Linked DNA regions of Homo sapiens. The protein of the gene in region 2 purifies or fractionates together with the protein of the main gene of each other region. This does not show direct contact. Each region holds a gene or a part of one and is shown on either strand. Other genes may lie near its edges.

The links. The genes of interacting proteins can lie anywhere in the genome.
Region 1: the proteins of LOXL2 (region 2) and RPL22L1 purify together in Homo sapiens (affinity purification with mass spectrometry; 2 studies listed by BioGRID). This does not show direct contact.

Annotation. Positions count from the first base shown.
Region 1 is NC_000003.12:170,868,250-170,871,997, forward strand, and holds the start of RPL22L1 (ribosomal protein eL22-like), read right to left. Parts: upstream 1,947-3,748; 5' UTR 1,919-1,946; coding exon 1,910-1,918; intron 142-1,909; coding exon 49-141; intron 1-48.
Region 2 is NC_000008.11:23,402,079-23,405,826, forward strand, and holds the start of LOXL2 (lysyl oxidase homolog 2 precursor), read right to left. Parts: upstream 2,043-3,748; 5' UTR 1,876-2,042; intron 1-1,875. UniProt on the Homo sapiens protein: Mediates the post-translational oxidative deamination of lysine residues on target proteins leading to the formation of deaminated lysine (allysine).

The sequences.
Region 1 (3,748 bases), on a different chromosome or scaffold from region 2:
TATCAATAACTCTGATTACAAAAATAAGCCGAGTAGAATGATACTTACAAAATTTCCAGAATCAAAAATTCCATCTTCTACTGGATGAGTAAGGTCCAAATTAAACCTCCAGGTTGACCTCTTGGGCTTCCTGTCTTTCTGCTACATAAATGAGAAATAATTATGTAGCTATATAAAACAACTTATTCAATTTATATAAACAATTTTAAAGTTTGTACCAATGCAATCTGTACAATGTACTGTTAGGTTACATATACAGAAATGTAACAATAAATAAAAAAACACCACCACTACCCACGCCGGGGTTGATTTGAACCTCTAACCAAGTCCTAATATGTTCAAGTTGTCAAAAAGTTACGGACTTTCATTGTTTTCTATACTACCAATGATCAATTTTAAATTATCGTGCTTTTCTGCCACCCCACTGCAGATGGGAATAGGTTAGTATACTGCCTAGCCCAAGCTCAGGTAAGTGCCAGAGCTAGGATTCCACCCACCTATGTCTAGAAAATTCAATTCTTACGTTATTATAGGCAAGGGAAGGGGACTTTGGTAAAAAAAAAAAAAAAGAAAAGAAAAGAAAAAGAAAAAATAAAAATAAAAAAGGCAAGGTGCCGTCCCAGCACTTTGGGAGGCTGAGGCAGGAGGATCACGTGAGGTCAGGAGTTCAAGGCCAGCCTGGCCAACATGGTGAAACCCCATCTCTAGTAAAAATACAAAAATTAGCCAGGTGTGGTGGTGCATGCTTATAATCCTAGCTATTCAGGAGGCTGAGTCGGGAGGATTGCTTGAACCCGGGAGGCGGAGGTTGTAGTGAGCCTGATCATGCCACTATACTCCCACCTGGGCAACAGACTCTGTCTCAAAAAAAAAAAAAAACCTAAAAACCAACACCGTGGAACTTAAATTTTCCATATCCAAACCTTTTATACCAAGACCATATAATATGGCTACATAAGCAAAATGTTACTGTGGCCAGCAACCATGTACATTCACTGCAATATGAACAAACAAATCTGTATTTATCAGACTATAACCTCCAATTTAGATTCACCCAAGTGGCTACCAAGTATTACACATTAGTTTGCTTTCTCAGGTAGCATGGTAACATGTGCCAAAAGATAATTACCCAGTTGGCGCAGAAGTTAATTTGGGAGACACAAACAACTTCTGTCTAATGGAACAGATAACCCTATAGGGTTTATGGCCATGCTGGGCATTACCCAGTTTTGTAGCTAGCCCAGCAATTTTATCCTAACTTTATTTGTAAATTGCGCATGTATATCTAGCTTTTCAGATATTCTTAGGAACATTTTAACATCTTACTGGTTCCCTTACTAATGACTTAAGTAAAACATCTGAAGCACGTTTATTTCACATTGCTGGAATCTAGACTTATACTTTTCTAAAAATTACTTCACCGAGAAACTTCTTCCCCAACTGAAAGTTCTCAAAAACTTGTGATGTCGGCCATCGCGGGAGCTGAGCGCCTAGGAGCTCCCTCTGGCCTGGCAAAGGTCGTCAGACCGGCCCGATTACCCACCATTCCCCTACCCAGTGCTGAGTGGCAAAAGCATTATCAGGCGCGAGATAGTAAAGAAATGGCTCAGATTGCAGTACCACCGGCCCATTTACAGTTGTGCCTCCCTCTTTCCCGCGTGTCCAAAACCACCCATCCTAAACCAATTCCGGGCCCAGCTCCAACTCCACTAGACCTCATGGCAGCTGCCAGGGAGTCTCGAAAAACAGTTCAGGATCCTCGCGTCTTGGTTGTGTTTCTGACCCAGACTTCACTACTCCCCTCCCTTTATCTTGACTGAGACGTCTCCACTCGACAGATGCAAAAATCGTTACAGCGGAAATCATTAAATTGCCACACAACACTCCCACCAAGACATCGCTCACTCACCGGCGCCATCTTGCGAGTCGGCCGCGAGAGCAGAGAGGAAGCTACGGCCGCGCGGTCTGCATTTATATCAAAGCGTGCTGCGTCACGCGCTGAGAGCGTCAGATTGTCGCCTCCCGGAAAAGAAAGCGGGAGGAGCGCTGAGGCCGGTAACCCAGGAAACCAGTGCGCTGCCGGACGAGAGTAGGCCATCGGCTTTCCGCGGGCACACGCGGGTGGCTGTGGTTGAACTGACTCTCGGGTTTCCGCTCCTGGCTGTTCAAGCCGATTAATTGCAGTGGCCTCTACAGTTACCTAGTGGCTGCTCCCGGATACGGACGCACGCGAGGGATGCAGGAGTCATCTTTCACTAATCACCGGAATCCCCTTTCCAATCAGGGCAAGGCAGTGTCTCAGGTTGCTTTGGGATCTCCTTTTATTGCAGTTATAATCCTCCAGCGAAAAAGTTATTTGTTTGTGTTTTGTCTGTGAGCCTCGTTTTCTAAATGACTGTTGAGGGAAATTGGTGCTTCGGGGACCAGGTCCTCGGGAAAAAAAAATCATGTATATATATGCTTACACGCCCACGCCTGTAATCCCAGCACTTTGGGAGGCCGAGGCCGGAGAATCTCTTGAGCCCAGGAGTTCGAGACCACCCTTGGCAGCGTAGGCATAGGGAGAACCCGTCTCTACAAACAATTTTAAAAAAAATGGCCCGCGTGGTGGTGCGCGTCTGTACTCCCAGCCACTCGGGAGGCTGAGGCAGGAGCATCGCTTTACCTTGAGAGGCGGAAGTTGCAGTGAGTCGAGATCGAGCCACTGCACTCCAGCCTGGGTAACAGTGAGACTGTCTCAAAGGGAAAAACACGTAGTGCTTGCTTCTTGTTCATTCGTTTGGTATAATTTATCATGGGTTTTACAGTTAATCCCAGGTCTCTTGATTTCCATCCAAAATGCTCCCAGTTAAAATTCAATGAATGTTTGCTGTGACCTATCAGTATGTACAAGACACACGAGGGTGGAAGTGTCTTGCTGACAAAAGGAAAAAGTAGCTTTTGAGCTTTGAAGGATTGTAAATTGACATCAGATCCGAAAAGTGGCATGCTGAACCGCTTGGGTTTAGCAGTAATATGTTTTCGTGGAGATGAAATTATCATACCTAGGGGTAGGGGTAAGGGATGGGGTGGACTTTGTTGTTAATTTGAAGAATGACCCCAGAAAGTAAGAACTGTTCGTGGCCTTTATGCCAGCAAGTAGTTATCGTGGAAACTATGCTTTAATAGAGCATATGACTTGTAGAGTCTGAAGAGAGGCCCTGAATTCCTAGAAGAAATCCATTTCAACAAGATTTTTTAGTTGTCTGCCTTAAGAGCTACAATAATCACATTTCTCTTTCCAAACATTAAAGGGAGCAATTGGCATTTCCTCCTCAAGGGCTGCCTAAGCTGAGGGGCAGAAATGATTCTATTTTGCTTGTCTTTAGCAGTCTTCCATGTCTTGACAATAAACTCCTTAAGCACTATTAAGCCATTTGTACAAGGAGGATATGGAAACATACCTGTTTCACAAGAACTAGTAATCACCAAATAACTAGTTAGAAACTGTAATGGGGGAAAAATGTTTGTCAATTAGAAAAAAAAACAAGAATATTAGCGAGAAATGTGCAGATGGGAAGACTAAAAGTTGTAAATAATTCAGTTCTTCCCAAACTGTGCGTGTGCACACGTATATAGTAACACAATGCTAGTCAATACCCTATAGTTATTTTTTAAAAATTTGACAGCTAATTAAAAAAATTTTAACATTTATTTTAGATTCAGAGGGTACATGTACAGTTTTGTTACATGAATATATATAATGATG
Region 2 (3,748 bases):
CATACACATGCAAACATGCACACAAACACAAATACACATATACACATACAGGTGTGCACACATGCACACAGGAATACATATGCACACACATTGCGTGCACACACACGTGCCCGCGCACACACACCTGTGTGCGCATATAAACACACACCGGTGCACACACATACACAAACACACTCGTGTGGAGACACACACATGCACACATACATGTGCCCACACATACACGTGCACACATGCATACACAAACGTGCGCGCGTGCACACACAGATTAGTGAGACTCAATTTCCTTGGGGAGAGCCTTGGTAGCCACTGGGGCCCATGGGGAGCACGCATCTTGTCATGGCTCTGGTGGCCATTCCAGGGCAGATACTAGGGACCAGGAAGAGGAACGGGACAAAGGTGAGGAGAAAGATTAAAAATTTAGTCAAGTTAGGATCCAGTGAGTCAGTCACTTATCTGGGAACTGACCAGGGAAATGAACTCTTCCTCTTCCACCCTAAACCCCAACCCTGACCATTAAGTACATGATACACCATCAATAACTAATTCATTCCACCAAAGATGACAAATGTTGTTTTGGGGTTCCAGGACGGACAGGCTAGCAGTGGTGTAGGGGAGGGGCCTGGAGTAAGAGGTATGGGTTTCAGTCCCCACATTGACTAACTCAGTGACCGTGAGCCTCAGCGTTTTTCTTCCTCTGGGAGAAAAAAAAAAAAAGTATTGTTTTTGAGATCTCTGCAGTTTCAAGATCTTAGGGACGAAACTAATTTGGAGCATGTTTCTGTCATGCACATCTCTCCCCTCATCAGGACTTGGGGTTTCCTAACCATATTGAGTAGTTCAGCCCCCTCCCTCGCCGTGTTCTGCGGTGTTCTCTTCCTCACACCCTCGCCCCGCTCCGCCCCGCACTCCGGCTGTTTTTTGATGGTCTTAGCTCGGGCACGGAGAGGAGGGAACCTCGCTTGTTCTCCCAATCATCTCTATTCCAGCGCTGATTCCTGGGACACCTCGAGCAGGCAGCCACACCCAGAGGGCTTCCAAATTTGGGCTGGTGAGAAGGGGCGCGGTGGGCAAAGCGCCTGCGTAAAAGTTGTAGGCACTTCAGACCACCGGACCAACGGCTCAAGATTGGGATCAGCTGTAGCCGTGGGTTCGCTCGTGCCCGTTCTTTCCAACTCCAGGGCTTCTAGGTGATGAAGGCGGGAGAGGGTCCCTGGTCCCCGGAGAGGCAGGGCGACTTGGGAGTGCATACCTGGCGTGCCGAGAGCGCCTCTGCTCCCGCAGGACTCACGGCGCTCCCGCGCTCCCAACAGCCTTTCGAGCAGGCTGGGGGTTGAACCGGGTTCAAGCAGTGGACGCTACAGCTCCCGGGCGCAGCCCCCGGGGTCCCCGCCCCCACTCCGTCCCAGCCCAGCACGCTCTACATCCCCAAAACCACAGCCCCGAGGGCAGTCACTGTCTCCCGACCCGTCCCCCGCGTGCCCCACTCCTCAAAGCCAGAATTCCGGAGACGCTGTCCCTGGAGCCACGCTGCACTCTCCAAGACGCCCAGCACACACCGAGACTTGACGGGCTCTGTCCCGCCTGATTACGGGCGCTCGGGACGATCCAGGGACCCAGCGCCTCGCTCCCCGGGCGCGCCAGCAGCCGCGCCGCGCCCGGCCCGTACGAGGTGGGGTTGGGCGGGGCCGCCCGGGGCGGCAGGAGGACCCGTTAGCCTGCACGTCCTCGCATCGCTCCCCGCAAGAAGTCTTTGGGAACCCCCAGGCACTGTCGAGAGGCAGCCCCGCGCAGGACGAAGCCTGGAGACCCCATAGGGACGCTCCCGCTTTCTCGCGAACCGCTTCGGGGAGGGGGTGGCGCGGGAAGCGCTCTTACTTGGTTTCAGGGATCCGCAGTGGCCGGGCTGGGACCGCGCTCTCCACGGTGGTCCCCCTCCGCTTCCGCCGCCGCTGAGCCCCTTTCTCGAGCAGAGGGGGCGGCTCTGGTCTCCGATGGCTGGAGAAAGCAAGCACCAAGCGTAGGTAGCCGCGCGCTGGAGTCGCGCGTTTACTCTTTTCCCCCTTACTTTTAACTAGAGGAGGATGGCAAACCCCTCCCCGGACCCACCCCCTTCCCCGAAGGCGGCCGCCGCAGCAGGCCCGGCCTCCGGCCTCTTTTGTTGTAATTCGAGAGCGGCCACTCCCAGGGCCAGAGGGAGCTCCGCGGGGGAGGCCAAGGCCTGCGGGGCAGCCCTTCCCAGGCTCCTCGCGCCCGGGTTTCCGGAGCCTGAGATGCCGGGAAGGGGGCCTTTCCTCGGGAGATTCCTCTACCCTTTCCTCCCTGCAGCCGTCCCAGAATTTAACCCTTCGATGTCCTTATCCACCAGCCTTAGGGCCCGTGCCTTGTCCACCTCCTATCCCGAAAACCCTGGCCCTCCTTGGCACATAATACACGCTCAATTAAAGCTGCCGAATGAAAGTGTTCAGAAACTTGCACCCATCTCGCCTGGGTTTCACCTCCCTTTTCCTGTAGGGGGAAAACCGATCCTGAACCAGTAAATAAACAGCCCCCTTTCGGCCAGCAGATCACGTCTATGGCCTTGGCCAAGCCTCTTCTCCGAGGACTAGTTTTCTTCTTTGTAAATTCAACGCTTTGGATTCCGTGACCTCTGGGGTCCTTCCTGGAATGGTAGGGCTGGGATTAACAAGCCCTGTGCTTGGGGACTGAACAGGACACAGCTAATGCGTGGCCATTGTGCAGAAGGACCTCCTGTGCCTGGCTCTGAGGCTCCGGGTGGGGGATGGGCATGCTGGGAGAGCCCTCTGCACAGAGAGGGCTCCTTAAGCAAGAGCAGGGCTTTGCCAGTCCCAAGGAGGCAGCGAGCTGCAAAACAAGGGACCCCTGTGCAGAAGTAGACTGTCACCTGAAAGGCGGCTCCTTCCTCAGTCCTCTCTTACTCCACTCCCTGAGGAGACAAACCCCTCCCAAATCTCACCTCCAGCCCAGGCTTCTCTCCTAAGCCATGGATATTTAAATCCATTGGCCCCGAAAGACTTTCACCTGGACATTCCCATGGCCGTAGCTAACCTGGCAAGCCCCAAACTTGGCACTGCAACTCACGGTCCACCTTGACTCCTGTGAGCTCTCCCAGGCAGATATGGGGTCTTCTCCGTTGCCTCCTCCTTACCCTCCCCACTGATCAGTCCCTGACTCTGGTGGGCAGTAGAGGGCAAGGGTCAGAGGAAGGGGGTGTAGTTATCAAAGGCAGGAGGAGGGATCTTTGTGGTGGTGGAACTATTCAGTGTCTTGAGATACAGAAAACCACACAGGTGATAAAATTGTATAGAACGTAATACACCCAATAAAATTTCAATTAAAAATTTAAAAAAATCCTCCGTGGCTCCAAGGTCCTCAAAATGTAATCTGAATCCTGGCTGGGTGCGGTGGCTCATGCCTGTAATCCCAGCACTTTGGGAGGCCGAGGCAGGCGGATCACAAGGTCAGGAGATCGAGACCATCCTGGCTAACATGGTGAAACCCCGTCTCTACTAAAAATACAAAAAATTAGCCGGGCGTGGTGGCGGGCGCCTGTAGTCCCAGCTACTCGGGAAGCTGAGGCAGGAGAATGGGGTGAACCCGGGAGGCGGAGCTTGCAGTGAGCCGAGATCCCGCCACTGCACTCCAGCCTCGGGGACAGAGCGAGACTCCGTCTCAGAAAAAGAAAAATGTAATCTGAATCCCTTGATTAAGCTGACAGGGCCTCTGGGGC